2 separate regions of the Homo sapiens genome follow, and region 1 is linked to region 2. Evidence: fine-mapped expression QTL. Tissue or cell type: lung. Region 2 holds a variant in brackets; the other region holds the start of a gene. All regions are shown on one strand. Distances are between the middles of the regions.

The links. PIP is the estimated chance that this variant, and not a neighbour inherited with it, causes the effect.
Region 1: PACRG-AS3 starts here. The variant in region 2 is fine-mapped to the expression of PACRG-AS3 in lung (GTEx, PIP 0.96).

What each region holds. Positions count from the first base shown.
Region 1 is chr6:163,188,100-163,196,246 of GRCh38, reverse strand. It overlaps PACRG-AS3 (PACRG antisense RNA 3), which reads left to right and starts at 4,245. Exons shown (of 4, transcript NR_122120.1): 1 at 4,245-4,366; 2 at 5,265-5,339. The region is part of intron 4 of PACRG (parkin coregulated); the gene reads right to left.
Region 2 is chr6:163,228,677-163,236,873 of GRCh38, reverse strand. All of the region lies in intron 4 of PACRG (parkin coregulated), which reads right to left. Among named protein-coding and RNA genes, the nearest start is that of PACRG-AS3, 41 kb to the right of the region's middle. The variant A/C (reference allele first, on the strand shown) is at 3,647.

The DNA of each region.
Region 1 (8,147 bases), 41 kb after region 2:
GCAATCATAGTAGCTCTCATTGATTAGAGTCTCCATGTGCTTATCATGTGCAGGGCACGGTTCTACTTCCCTAACTCTAGATGATCAGGGAACGTTCTCGCGGAAACGCTGTGCGAGAAATGCTGATTGGGATCTTGGACCTGTTGCTTTTGAGGTGGGCAGGAGATGAGCTGGAGGAAACTGAAGGAAACTGAGCCAGCGACTGGAGGGACGGGGTCTGGGAGGGAACCAGCTCGTAGGGGGTCTCTGGGATCCCTGCTTCTCCAGAAAGAGCAAGAGGGAGCTGCGCCCTGCTGGAGAGCGGGAGAATGGAGGCGAGAATCAGGGAGGGAGGAATGAGTGAGAGAGATCCCGAGCTGGGAGGAGATGCTGGGGAGCCAGCGGAGACACCCAGGGGCGGGCGCGGGAAGGGGCGCAGGAGGAAGCCAGAGCTCTCCAGGGGCCATTTTAGAATGGCCGTGGGAACTGAAACTTTGAAAGCAGCGTGACTGTGTGTCTTTAGGCGCAGAATCTCCATTTCCCGGCAGGGCAGGGAACGCAGCACAGGGAGGCTGAGAGGGGGGTCGGGCGGCCTCCACTGCCACCTCCTCAGCCGCCGAGGCGCAGGGAGCCCTGGGGGAGGTTAGACCCCTTCCTACCTGCACTCCCTTATCACAAAATGTCTTTAAAGCACACTTCTGGGAAGCGGGGGAACGATTTCGCCGCTGGAAAAGGGAGTCACACCACATTGAAAACACTGGGCTCTAGGGCCATGTGGAAAGGGAAGAGGCCTCCAACACTCCTCTCCATTGGACGCCTGTCTTCATGGGTTTCACGGTCAAATGTATGATGTAAGGAGAACCCACATGAGGAGATAGTCTTGGAAGTGTGGTCAGGGCGGCACCTGTGGTTAAACTTCTCTTTGGCAGCACTCTCTTTGGATGCAACAGCTTCAAGACTAGATGGAGATTTAAGGAATTATAAATGAAATAAACAATTAGCCAACATTATTAGTGGTTCACGATAATGAAATGTGAGAACAATCAAATGCCAATCATCAAAGCGTGGCTGAGAGGCCAAGGCATCCCCGATGCTTTCTCTGTTATGGGGGGATAAAGAGGCTCCTTCAATTGCTACCTTTGGAAACATCACCTCCTTTTGACATGGTGAGAGTCGGGGTCAAGAGAAGTGGACTCCCTCTACCATCGACTCCAGATCAAGGCTCAAGTTGAAGAGGACCAGTCCCAGGAGGGAGGAGAGGCTCACTGTTCAGCAAGCCCGTGGACACCGATGTAGAGGGGAGGCACTTGAAGAGCCCCAAATATCTGATGCCTGCAAAGTGCACTGATGACCAAAAGGGAGGGAGGGGCGTGGGGAAGGAGGGGAGAGTGAAGGAGGTGGGAAGGGAGAAGAGCAGAGGGAAGAACAGCAGGCGTGGGGTTGGGGGGCATTGCACTCCAGTCTCAACAGGCAGCCCCATTCCTGTGGCCCAGTAGGCCTGCATGTTCTAATCTCCAGGACTGATTTTACTTGCTCCAAAATACTTGCACATTGATGCCTTCACAAATAGGCTATTTTGATGAGTGAAGCAACCACCGCTTACAAAAAAGCTGTCCTCTTCAGTGTAGGTATGCCACTATGACTACAAACACCTCGGACACCCCGGCTGCACCCTATCTAGTCCCAGGAATGACTGGCTGTCAGGGTCCCCGTCAAGTCCATTCTGTGCTTGATGGCAGGTGGCCTGTGGCTTGTGCAGCCCAGAGCCAGACACCACCAGCCTGGAGGCGCCGGGGTTTCCTGCCTTGGGAAAGGCAGACAGATGGAAATAACAAGATGAAGAAAGAAAGATATGAAAGGAGGGAAGGAGGGTGACAGGGAGACAGGAGAAAAGACAGGGAGGGAGGGAGAGAGGGGGAGAGAACAAAAGAGAGACATCAAGAGGAAGAACTGAAACTAAGTTCTGGAACTTCAAAAGTAAAAACAGAACCCCAGGAACACTGACTATGGAATCTCTCCTCTGTAGAAAGGAGCACTGAGTCTATGAGCTACAGGGGAATGTGTAATCGGGCGCAGAACCTCCATCACAGATGGCCTCATCTGTTGTCAAATCTGATTAGTATTAAGAAACAGTCTTACTTGAGGTCAGGAGTTTGAGACCAGCCTGGCCAACATGGCAAAACCCTGTCTCTACTAAAAATACAAAAATTAACCGGCTTTGGTGGCCCACACCTGTAGTCCCAGCTACTCGGGAGGCTGAGGCAGGAGAATCGCTTGAACCCAGGAGGTGGAGGTTGCACTGAGCCGAGATCGCGGCACTGCACTCCAGCCTGGGTGACAGAATGAGACTCCATCTCAGGAAAAAAAAAAAAAAAAAGAAACAAAAAGAAACAGTTTCCTAGTCCAACATGGATTTGAAAAAGTCTCTGATTCTATGTTTTCTCCAATATGTTTAAAATGTGTACTACATTTAAAATACATTTTTATTTGAATTACTTTTAGGAATACTTTCAAACTATGACGGGCTGGTACAATTTCTAACTTTGAATATTGAAACAAAAATTATCTCTGAGGAAAATTTGTCGAGTTCAATATAACAAAATAAAAATATTTTTTATTTAATAAAAATAAAGAAAGAAAGAAATCCCATGTGTTCACGTCTTCATTTAGTGTTTCCCTCCCAGTTCTCAGGAGGCCACCATGCCGCCCTGTTCCGCACATAGCACTGGGTTCTTAAAAATGGTCAGTCTCGGTATTTCTGGCCGGGCAGCCCCTGGGAACAATCGCCTTGTTGATAGTTTTCCACACTTAATCAGAGAATTTAAAGCAATACAAATGGAATAGTGGTGAAAGTACCAACTCTGACCTTAACTCTTCATACATTGTCTTAAGTTTAAATTCAGCCCTCAAAAACAAATTTAAAACAAAATGAAAGTTTTTCCTCTGGATATTTGAAAGACTGACACCCATTTTCACTCTCTCAATCTAAGTGAAGCCTTATGGAAATGATTAGCACACAAGGCATATTTCTATAGTTGGATATTTATAAAATATAACGTGGCACATTAAAATTTTTCTAGACTCTATCACCACCTTAAAAATGAATATTTAAAAATTACCCTGCAGTTACATGCCAGTGTGCTTGAAATTTATTTTTATAAATATTCATTTGAATTATAGGCTTCAAATGTCTGTATCAAGCAATAAATTGTCATTTTAAAACCAGGAACAACAAAGAGTGACTGTTTATTGGGTTTAAAAAAGGCTTTTATCTCTCACAGACTTTGGGATCCGGTTTAAGGGTTGTAGAATGGTAAGAAGTATCGGGCATTTGGAAAAAATGGAGATCCAAGGAGTGAAGAAGTGTGTCAGATCTTTTTAAGCAGGAAATCGAGTGATGGCTGCCTACTGCAGGACGTCACAGATGTCTGCACCTGTCCAACCCTTGACAGATGCTCCCAACACACCCAACCTGGGAGCCAGTCAGCCTAACCATCTTCCCTGCAAATACACACAGTACAAAAATAAAATGTTCTCTCATCAAGTCTAAATAGAGATCCACATAAGCCATCCATGTCAGAGAACTCTAGCTTTGTACGCTATGATAAAAAAAAGTATTTAAAATGAAATAAACACCTTAATTCATGCTCATCTTGAGACACACTTACCAAAGTTTAAATGTTTAAAAATAAGGCAATAGACATTTTTATGGTTGATAACAAACTACAAATTTGTCTGGGGGAAAAAATCATTAAATGTTTGACAAAAGAGCTGTGATAAGAGATAAAGAACACAGTATTCACTGTCTAAAGAACCAGAGGGGAAAATACAGCTTGTCCCCGAGCCCACATTTTCAACTATGTGTGCTATGATTACAGTTCTAAACAATGGATACTGTGTCAGCACAGAGAAAAACAAACAATAGATCTTTTTCTGAAAGTATCTGTAGGAAGACCATACAAAACAGTCAACAAGGGAACTGAAATAATCCTTGCATTCTTTGCAAAAATAATACTTTAAGGTTCCTTTGCAAGAATGTTGGTATTCTTTTCCACTGTGCATTTCATTTTCCTTCATTCACTACAGATTTTCTCCCAACCTGCACCTGGTTTGAGCAGCAGTCAGCTGGCTTCTGGGGACTTTCCCTATTTCATTCCCTCTAACCCCCAGAGACTCTGGAGGCAGCTGCACAACTGTGCTTTCTTTAGTTATAAAAGCTAGCTTGTGACATCCTTTGTGTGATTCAGTTAAAAACTGAATTAACTGAAATCAATTCAACAACAACTGCCCCGGTGCTTCCCCGTAGATAGCACCGCTGGTCAGTTCGGGAGGGGATGGGACATTGAGGAGCAGGACAGTCTTCAGGAAGCTTACAGTCTGCTTTGGGGTGTGAGACACCAGGCGGGGTGTGGCTTTCATTGGGAGGGACTCCTATGAAGTGTTACAGGGTTTAGAGAAAAAAGGTGGCTGGAAATGGAAGATGAGAGGATCCTGGACAACCTGGGGGCAGAGGGACGTCATGGCTCTGAGTGGGAGTGGAGAAGATGGCATTTTGGTGGATGGGTGGAGGAAGAGCATAGGCACAGATGGCCACGTGGAGTGTGGTCCACAGATAAGTCACCTGGTGGAGTGCAGCCACAGTGCCTGAGTCAGGAGGTCTCAGCTCGTGAGTGTATCTTAGCTCAACGATACACTCAAGATCCTTGAGCTAGGAGAAACCCTATAAACCACCTAAGTGGATGCCTTCTCTTTAGAGAGGAGAGAGCTTAGGTCACAGAGAGGCTGTGACCTCCCCCAAGGGTGGTGCAGAAAGCGGCCATAGCAGTGAAGGGGAAAGGCCTCGTGGCGTTGGGGGGCCACTCGCCATAAAGGTGTGGGGGTCAGAGAAAGGGAAGATCAGAGGACACTGGAACTTGACACTGAGCTGAGGAATGAGACTGGGTGGGATCATTCATAGAAATTTCATCTGAAGCCTGGGAAGGAAGTAGGTTTGGGGGGTGGCGGGAAGGGATGATGGTGAAGTTAGTTTTTTAATTATTGCTTTTATTTATGTATTTATTGTTTGCAATTTTGAGGTCTAGTGTCCATTTAAGTGGAATGGCTTAGGAAAAGGTGCTCATATTTTAAGCTGTTCTCCTGGACTAAGGGTGAATACATAGTCCCTCTTTTAACTTGAATCTAAGTAACAGGTTTTTTGTTTGTTTGTTTTGTTTTTCAAATGATAATATGTAATATTTTAAATTCAGTATTCTAATAAATGCTAAATAAGGGATTTCTGATTTCAGTTGTTTCAGGAACACAGTCATCCCTCAGAAATGGATTGGGTGACAAGTGGTCTGCATGCTGCACACGGGCACTGGGTGAGTGTGCTTGGAGCTGTTTGTCAGGACATCATCAGCAATAGACAGAACACGAGGGAAGTAATCAGTGAAAGAAGACGAAGTTGTTAAGTTGTTTCTGACTTTATCTTTGGAGCGGGCTCACAGAACATTTGAGTGGGCTTTTTGGTATAAGAGAAAGAGCCCTACACTTTTGCCCAATTCTAGTTCTAGGCTCCAAAACAAATTTTACTAGGGTTCTGAACTGACGGGTTAGACTGTTTTTGTTAACTTTTATTCTTATAAATATTTTTGGCCATTGCAGTCCAATCAGAAGAAAAGTAGAAAGCAGGTCATTTTTACCTTCTCTAAGAAAAGAAATCCAAAATTTACAGGAAAGCCCATTCTTGAAAGTCCCTTGTGCTGCTAGGCAGGGCCTTTCGATTATTTTCAGACAGATGTTGAACCTTCAGAATTTCCTCCGTGCATCGGGGTCACTGACTACTTGTGTCTAATGCAACTCTGCACTAACTAGATTGTGCGCCGACCTCTATTTTCACTTTCAAACCTCATATTCCAACGTTGCTCAAGGTTGACTGTCACTGACTGGGCTTTTCTTTACGACTGTACTTATGAAGAACAAATGTACTTGTAAATGTTTGGGGACTTCAAATTTAGTTTACAAATGTGTAGTCCTCATTGAAGATTCGATTTGTATTATATTTAGGCAAGTTTTCTGGCTCTTAATGGGGTCCTAATGAGTCACCGATGGTAAGGCTTCAGATTCAGACCTTCCTGTTAGGATGGGGATGAGCTGTTTGTCCTCATTTGCCAATTATTTGGAAGAGAAAACCAATGTAATGCAATCGGAATCCAGTTGTATTATTAAGACCCGCATTTGAAACCTAGTTTCTTCTATCAGAAGTAATTTTTCTGATTTTTGGATTATGTACTTCTCCTTCATATAAATGAATGTTACTGCTTTTGTGGTGTTACCAGACCTAGCTTATAGAAATAAATGACAGGCCACCTGGGGGTCTGCCCGTGCAAGCATGAACTAAGCAGCAACAAGCAGTATGCCCTGCGGTGACCAGTGTGTCAGCATTCACATAAGCCCGGGACAGTGAATGCGGGCCCTTGTCAGTCACGGGCATCAGGCGCATGGCACTGGGCACAGCTGACTGCCTGTTGATGCTGATGGCTGGATGGCTGCATTTAAGTACACTTTCACAAAACTCATTTGTATCTCTTCCCGAAGAAACCTAAATGGAATTAATTTGTTGGAGGGCTGCAATGTAAAATTTTTAAATAGAGAACAAAATGGAGTATGTTGCTGTTTCATGGAAGAGAACACGGGAGAAACTAGCAATCTGTAAGCTAAAAATTGATGGCAGCCCCTGCCACAATGAATAATTGGCAATGCCATTCAGCCTTTAAAGGTATCAGATAATGAATAAGCTGGGCATAAGGCATCTAGTTCCCTTCCATTATTCTCCAATAGGTTATGTAATAAACATCCATCCCTGAAAGATAATTCTGTTTTTCATTGTTCTGTAAGAGAAGATAATTCTCTCTTTTTTTAAATTGTCCTGGAAGACATTCTTAAAACACCTTGTTAACAAACTGGCTAAATGTCCACCTACAGAATTGCACTAACTAAAACCAAAATTAGTCATTAGAGCTGTTATGCATTTGTCAGCAAATCCCTTATGTCCATCTCATGCCTGACTTTTCTTTAACAAAACTATGTTATACGTAGAACTTAGCAGTACAGATGATGCCTGCTTTGATCATACAAACGGGCTTTATACATGAATTGTAATTTCCACTTTAATTTGTTTTTGCGAAATCTTTCCTGCAGTATCATTCCATCTCAGCATTCCCCAACCACCTTTGACATTTTAATCAATTATCCTCTCATGTCTTGTTAGGCCACAAACGTATGGGCTCTATTTTTTCAAAGAAAAGTATGTTGGTCACTTACAAGATGGATCCAAATGTAAAAGATGTTTTTCACGTTCTAGCGTACATTCCTAATTGTTCTTAGTCAATGTCTGCAAATGAATAGTATGTGGAAATATCCTAAGCCCATGCTTGCTTTGTACAAAGGAATCCTTTCCCCTCTACTGAATGCTATCTGGATGGGCAATGACGACAGTTTTTCAGATCTCAAACACAACAGAACGACACACCAAGTCAGACATGAACTAAACTGCAATTGTAACTACTGAGGGAATTTTTATGCAGATTATGTAACAAAAATGAAACTAGACAAAGTGTGAGAAAGGCCACTAAAATAAAACGGTCAGGCCACGCTTTAGAACTGTAGAATCAAAGAGTCTTCACCTTTCTAGGCTGGAGACGACCTTCTCACTCACGGACCAAACCCTTGGTGTGACCTCTATTTCCCAAGAGATGAGCCTTCAGGCCTGAGGATCAGTGGCCTGATTCTTATAAAGGAGACGGTGGACTCACAAAGGCATCACGTCAGTATTTTAACAAGCTCACCTCTAAGAGATGACGTTAGATTTTCTACTGTAGCTTCGGGGGCTTAAATAGACACTCCTTAATTTAGAGTTAGTAAGCTCAATCATTTTGATCAGGTACAGGTTTTTAGCAACAACTGTCATCAAAACAGGTTTTCCAGTAGCAAATGAATTTGATACTGACTAAACATTTGGTAAAAGATGACTATGCACATGCCAAAGAAAAGAGTGACTTGGGAGAGCTTTTTCTATACAAAGAATGGTTGACTTGGGGCTCCTGCCTCCCCGATGTTCTGATGCAAACCAGTCCTGTGTGTGGGGACTCTATTTGCACAGATCACATAGTTCCCTGTAGGAAAAGATA
Region 2 (8,197 bases):
AGCTTTTGCCATGATTGTAAGTTTCCTGAGGCCTCCCCAGCCATGCCTCCTGTACAGCCTGCAGAACTATGAGTCAATTAAACCTTTTTTCTTTATAAATTACCCAGTCTCAGGTAGTTCTTTATAGCAGTGTGAAAACGGACTAATACAATCAACCATTCAATGCCCCACTAAAACGAAGTGGCAAACTCTTGGTACAGCGGCACAGTCTCCACCTCTTCTTGCCATCTTTTCAGTCCCATAGCAGACATTTGTAATTGATTATGGCTCTTTATTCACCCGAGGGTAGGAAAAGACCCGGAATCTTGTGTAACACAGTCATATTTCCCATCAGAGTTCTAAAATGAGATGAAGTTCATCTGCACTTGTGTGAGACTAAATCTTCAACCAGTCAGTAGACAAATATTTATGGAGTGCTCAAAGGACAGCTATGCTTAGGAATACGTAGAAGAGATTCAACTCAGTTTCTGCTGAGATTAATTTCCAAAGGGGGAAAGAAGCTAGCAAAGCATAAGTATACATAAGTGAGTCACAATTACCAATAAATGAAAGAGTATTCAGAAGAAGGCCAGCTCAAGGTGGCACTAGGAGGAATGGAGAAGGGCAGGGTTGTTTAGGAAACCTACCTGGAGGTCAAACTACATTTTGGTTTGAAGAAAAATAAATGTGCTTTGGCAGATGGGAGGAGAACAGTTCTATTTAACATGATTTACCCTGAGGTTCATACAGGGTATGCCATACCCTGTGTGGCATATCCCACCATCTTTCAAAGTATCTTGTAGCCATTGCTGCCCTGACATAGGCAGAATCACAAACAGATTTTTTCAGATAAATAAATGCTTGGAGATCAGTCATATAACAAGTAACCTTTGGAAGAGCAGAAAGTTTGCCAGTTTTCCCAAAGCCTCTCTTTAAAAAAACAAAAACAAACAAAAAAAACAACTTTTTTCCTTTCTTTTTTAGTGTTTAGTTGTTACCAAACCAAAGCCTCTCTCTTATAAGCAATATTTGACAATAATAAAATATCAAACCACACTATAAATTGACTCACCAAGGGCAGAATTGAAAAAGAGAACTGTACTTGTTAAAGATTCCTTTGGAGGAGTGTAAGGAAATTGTGAAGAATTAAAAACAAATCCCTATAATATAGATGATAAAACCTTGTGAAATTGAAAAAATTTTCCAGAGAGAAATGTATAAGAGGAAGTGGACAATATTTCTGATAATTTCTCTTAGGTGCTGGCAAGCTGTTGAATTTAGGCACATTTCCTTGCTAGTCTATAGACATTAACACAGGGGATGAATGGCATGATCTGGCAAGAGGAAAACCCCTTCTCCAAGGAGAAGGACCTTGAGGAATTTGGAAGCAGATATTTCATATTCCACAAGTAAAAGAACACCATGCTCTCAAGACATACATTTTCTAGTCACCAACACCACCTCCTCTCAGTCAAGTGACATTTTAGTGGCAAGCTTCATGGAAGGCAGTTACGTACAATGGGGAAATTGAGAAATTATTTTAATGGAGCCTGTGTCTCCAGAAGATTATATGATGCTTTATCAATGGAGAAGAAATATATCTGTATATGCTTCAGGATTATCATTAGACTGTCACATGCAAAAGGGGAAATATGACAGGTTTGGGGATATTAGAGAGCAGCAGGAAATGTGGTGCGTCTGAACTGCTCGAGTCATGCCCACAACTCCCATTCAGCCGGCTTACGATGGAAGAGGTGAGCCCCTTCTCATTTCAGGCAAATTCTTCCGCTATGTCTTCCCACCTCCTCAGGGCCCTTGTACAATAGATTATAGCCTTTCTTTTTTGTACCTTCAGTTTCATGGAGCTCATATCTTTCTTCATTTAAACATAGTCGTGTCTTTTCGTCTTAAAACTAGCAAGTCTCTGTCTAACCCAAAACGTTACCAACATTTGGCCCCACTTTCCTTCGTCAAAATCAACTTTTTAAAAAGAGTTGCCTGTACTTGCTCTCTTCCTCAACTCTCATTTATTTTTTTACCCATTATAATCTGGCTTCTGTTTTACCTCTATATGAAAACTGCTTTACCCAAGACAGCATTGTTGCTCAGTTCAATGGACATTTTTCAGCCTTTATTTTACTTTGCCTCCAAGAGAAATTTTTGACTCTGCTCTCTTTGTTTAAACACATTCTTCTTTTGGTGCCCATAGAAGTAAACTCCTGTGGTTTTTGACCTGCATCTGTGGCTACATCTGCTTGGTCTCCTTTGGGAGCCGTCTGTCCCTTAAATGTAGGTGTTTTAGTCTGTTGGGGCTGCTATAAAGGAATGCCGAGGCTGGATAATTTTTAAGGAAAAGAGGTTTATCTTGGCTCATGGCTCTGCAGGCCATACAAGAAACATGGCACCAGCATCTGCTTCTGGTGAGGGCTTCAGGAAGCTTCCATTTATTGTGGAAGACGAAGGGGAGCTGGTGTGTGCAGAGATCACATGGCCAGAGAGGAAGCAAGAGAGGAGGAGCTGCCAGGTTCTTTTCAACAACCAGTTTCTGCAGGAACTAAGAGTGAGAACTCACCCACTCCCATGAGAAGTCACTCCCCTGAGAATGGCACCAAGCCATTCCTGAGGGATCTGCACCCCCCATGACCCTCCCACCAGGCCTCACTTCAAACATTGCAGATCAAATTTCAACATGAGACTTGGCAGCGCCAAACAAGCTATATCCAAACCATACCCAAACTATAGCAGAGGGTGAGACTCAGAACTGCACCCTAGATCATCTTCTGTCCCTGCTCTGTGTCACTTTCTATGGACCATCTCCATCATTAATGACAAGAGTACTCTTCCTTTAATGATGATAGTTATCCCCCAAGACCTGAACACTCTTAAATGGCTGAATAAAATCTATTACTTCCCACCAGGCATTTCTTATTGAGCCCCAAGACAAAATGTCTTATTATTTAGGGAATATTTCTATTTGAATGTCTCTCATTTGGTGAAATCTTAACAATGAAGGACAGTGCAACTTACAATTTCCCTCCTTCCCTACAAACGTGCTCCTCATTCCATTTCCCCTTCCAGAATTTTGTTTTCAGAACAGAAATCCAGAAGTTATCTTTTACTCATCCTACTTCCTCACTCACAATTCTGTGTTATTAAGACCTGTCCTTTATATGTCTTCAATATTTTTCAAATATTTCCATTTTCTCCATCTCCTCTGCCCCTAACACAAAGAAGTCACTGCCATTTCTCATGTGGACAGCTGTATCCTGCCCCCTCCACGGCCTCTTGGACTGTCTTTATCCCTTCCCATCTTGATGTTAAAATGTTTCCTCTTATTTTCTTGAACTCATAATATGTTTTCTCACACAGTGAAATGCATGGCAGTTATTTCTTTGGGCTAGCATGCAAAAGTCATTTAGCCACACAGGGTAATTTAGAAAATGGCATCTCTCAAGTTCAAGGCTGGTGTCATTTCTCTCCCTCTCTCTCCAAATTACCATCTAGGTCAACTGTAAAATGCCCCTGCAGCCTCCGGCCTCCTGCATTCTACTCCATTCCTCTGTTTTTACTGGCAGGTGAACTTTTTGTTCATCAATCAGTTCAGCCATCTCTTCATCCATCCATTCACACACCTTCAGCTTTGTCCCTAAATAATTTAAATCTCCTA[A/C]CAGAGATGTAGAAAACATGAAAGTAGGTGAGAAAAATACAAAGGATAGTGAGCAGGTTATTCCCATTGTGAATTGAAGATGGATTGCAGCAAAGAATACTTCTTGGGGGACAAATTCCTGCTGAGCGTGTTCTGTAACATCACAATACAAGAGAAAACTTAACAGAAAATGTGTTTGAAGTTGCTGAGACCATCTCCTCCCCAGAGATGCCCTTTGCTACACTGGCAGGGCCACTCCAGCTGTAGTCCCAGAGGGATGCGGCCCTGGTGTGAGGGGCAGTATTTCAGCTGGAGGAGCAGAGTTGGGAGAGGGCTGAGGGCTGGTTTCGGGGGTGGAGGCTCCTGGAGGAGGGGTGGAGGGGCTGGCTGTGCAGGGCCAGGGCCTCCTCCTGGGAGCGTGAGCTGGGGGGTAGGTGAGGCGTGCTCTTTACCTTGCTCTGCTCTCAGGCCATGCCTGGACTGTTCTTCCTGCTCTGGCACCTCAGGGAATCAATCACTTTTGTCTCTTCCTATTGCCTGCTGTTCCTGAACAGGGCTCCTCTTCTCGCTGGTCCACAGGAACCTGTTGACCTTCCCCGGTGTGCCTTAGGGAAGCGGAACACCCTCAAAGTATAAGTGTGTTTTGCCATGAACAAGGCCAGGACCACAGAGCCACCTTCCTCTGCCCCTTCTCATCTCTGCTTCTTATTTCCACACCTTCCCACCTTTCCCTTCCCTTACTGCACTGCCTTCTTCCTTCTCCTCTTCCTTTGTTCCTCCTTTCCTCTTTTTCTTCCTTTTCCCTTCCCTTCTTACTAAACAAAGTAAGAAGTGGACAAAGTGTGGGCGTTGGTCTGACACGCAGGCTGGAGCTAAGAGCTACTCTACCAGGAGGACTTGCAGGTTGGGGCTCGGGCACATTGCAGCAGCGGAGGAGCCTCTGGAGTAGCCAGGCCCCAGCGGGACACGGCACCTGGTGCAGGTGAACTCTTCTCTATTATAAGAGTGTGACGCTAATCTTCAGCTCTCCTGGGTTCTCTTCATCATAAATATTCCTGGAATGAACATCACTGTGTTGGCTTGTCCTGAGGCACTCACCTCAGCCACTCCCTTCTAGGCTGGACCTTTGTGTTCTGTAGAGAGCTGCCTTGGGTGGTAGAGGCTGGCCTGAGAGTCCCAGCAAGTCAGTGCCCACTTCAAGTCATCTTCAGAAGTAGCTTATTTTATTTGTTCTAAATAATTATCTGTCCATTTCAACATATACTGCAGATGAAATATCTGCCAATGCAGCATTACATAAATACCAACGTAGTGCCAGCTCCAGCTGAGAGTGAAGCCGGGACTTGTTTACCTACAGTAACTGCGTGCTCAGCATTCTTGGGTGAGGCTGTTTATCATGGCCAACCTGCAGCCAGTGGTCTGGAGAGGCTCTTGCACCTGTATGGTCCCACCTCAGAGAGGCAAATGGATCTCTGCTTGTTGAGAGTGATTCTGAAACTATGCAAGCTCATGGATAAGGGGCTCTGACTGGCAGATGGAGTTTGTTGAGGGTAAAAGGAGTCACCTGGTGGGTGCTGGTCCTGGGGAAGGCATGCAGTCAGCCAGGATTGCTTGCCTTTTCAAGCCACCCTATGTGAAGTCACCTTTTGCTGAGGCATCCTGGCTCAGCGGATCTGGGCTCATAGTTGTGAAGACCTGCAAAGTTGCTGATCCATCTGTATGGAATTGTCTGCATCCGTGCAGGGTGTGACAACCCGGCATGTCACTGTGGTCAGAGCAGCCCGGGGCTCTCCTGCATGCAGCGCCGGTGCAGACTTCCAGCAAGCCCATCTGGGGACTGTCCACTGCTTTATAAAGGGTATGGGCAGGGAACTCTGGCCATGTTCGAGCAGGATGTGATTAACATGACACAGACTACTGTTTTCTTGTTCTAACAGCATTTTCAGTGGCATGGCAGTGAGTGGGTCACAGGACATAAGAAAAGACAGTGGATGAAGTTAAGAGAAATAGAAAAGCCGCAGGAAGCAATTTTGGAGGACGCCAGTGCTGCTGGCAGGAGAAACCCCAGCCAGCAAGCCACGGCTCCCCCGTGGGCCTGCCCACCTTGCCAGCCTCCCAAAGGTGGTGCCGCTCCCAGCCGCAGCCCCATCCTATCTTGAGAGCCCCTGTTTGGGGTCTCCACTTTCTCTGCTGGCCCAGAGGAGCCGTTGCCTTTGCAGGGATCTTCTTAGTTGTGCCTGAAGATTGTGGCACCCTTGACCTCTCTCCTCTGCCATCTCAATACCATATTCATTTCTGTCCCGCAGGCTTCTTTCACGAGGCTGTAATTACTGGCAGGGACACCTTACCTACCTCCTCCTCTCTCTCCAAATACTGTCCTTCGAGGCCTAATTGAAGGCCTCTCTCCTCCAGGAAGTCTTTTCTGAATGTTGGAGGCTCTGATAACCTTCCGGGTTTTTCCCTCCCTAACTCTGCACCTACAGCAGTTCGGCATTACACACCATCCTGCGTTCTTCATTTGTTTATTCAACCACGTTTTAGGGATTTTGAAGGTGAATTACTGTTGCTGTTTCCATCAGCAATAAACAGACATATAGACACATAGTTGGACACATTTGGACACGTCAAATAAGTCTTAAAGGCCGTGGAATGAGTCTAGTTATATATGTTTTTCCATTCTAGATGGCATGAAATTTAATGTCTATTCAAAAGTCGAAACTATAAAACTCCACTAAGTATAAGCTTTCCAGATAACTAGTTTATTTTCTCCCTGGAACTTAAAATAGGAGGAGGAAAGGGAAGTCTAATTCTGAGAAAGTAGGATCTCTTTCGGATGTTTTGTCCATTAAATAGTGAATATTTTATTACACTAAAAAATTCTATGCATGTAGACTTACAGTAAGTACTCCATATACATTTTAGGCTGATAAATTGGAATAACTGGTATTCTAAGGGGCATAATTTCCTAACATAAGGACACAGTTACCTGTGCTACAATGAAGAGATTAAAAATTGGTTATTGAATGCTTTATCTTAAAGGAGTGCTGTGTAGTAAAGAAGATTCATATTTGCTAAGCTCTTTAAAAACTGTAATGCATGGTGCAAATGTTACATATATAGACGTACATTCTCTTTGCAAAGAGCTTTCACAAAGGACAATGTACTATGAAGATGGCCACTTGGAAGTAAATAGGACTTTGAGGCGTTTCTGATGCCACTGTAGAGAATGTCAACAATGGCAGTATTAAATTTGCTGTTTTTTATTATTTATTTCAATGCCCAGAAGCAAACTGTTGAATAATTTCACCATCAGGTTACAATTGAATTAGGTTCTAAATTATAGGAGGTTAGTGGGACTCTGTGGACCTGAAATTGACCTCTGCTGTCGCCTGGAGACAGTTCTGGGCATCTTGCTGACAACTGCCGCTAAAGGAATTGTGGAGCCTGTTGGTCCTCATGAGAGGAAGTCAGCGCTTTCCTCATCCATCTTTTCTTCCTTCTTAAGAAAAATTCTTCTGTCCCAAATTTCTTCCCAGAGGAGGGTTCTCCTAGAACTATTCAAGGGTCTCTTCCAACAGCATTTGACAGGTGTGGAATTACTACTTAAAAAAGTCACGAGACTAACTAACTGAAGGGGAACGATGGTGCTTGACTACGAATGCCACATTTGTGCTCAGGTGCAGGTTATTCAAGCTGTGGCTGAATGTCTTTGGAACCATTACTGGAGCAAAGCCTGCAGACAACTCCTTGCTAAACCATAAAATGATGATTCTGGCAAGCAAAGATCAGATGCAATCTGAGTGCTCTGAGAAGCAGAAGAATCAGTGCTTTGAAAGGGATCACAAATACTGGATTTTTTGTTGTGGTGGTGGTGGTGGTTTTGTCTTTTTTAGAGGCAGAAGGCAGAGGTCTCACTCTGTCACCCAGGCTGGAGTGCTGTGGCACGATTATTGCTCACTGCAGCCTCTAACTCCTGGGCTCAAAGTGATCCTCCTGCCCCAGCCCCCTGAGTGCCATAGGTGTGCACCACCTCTCCCCTGGTTACTTTTCTGTAGAGACGGGGGTCTCACTATGTTGACTAGGCTGGTCTTGAACTCCTGGACTCAAGTGATCCTCTTGCCTCAGCCTCCCAGAGCATTGGGACTACAGGTATGAGCCACTATGCCTGGCCTGCAAATACTTTTAAATTGAGATATGAAATTTAGCCCTTTCTGGTTCAGTAAAATGTTTACTATTTTTATAAACAAAACATCAGAAGGAGATTCTACTTTCTCAGAATTAGACTTCCCTTCCATCCTATTTTCAGGTCCAGGGAGAAAGTAAACTGGTCATTTGGAAAGATTATTTTCAGGAGTTTTATAGTTTTGGACTTTTGAATTAGACAGTAAATTTCAAGCTGTCTGGAATGGAAAAACATATATAACTAGACTCATTCTGCGACCTTTAAGACTTATGTGATGTGTCCAAATGTTGGTCACTGTGCTAGAGAATCACTCCAGTCTGCATTTATTCCAATTTATAAAGGTTTCTTTTTATTTTCAGCTGAAATTTTTACTTTGGGAAATGTTACAA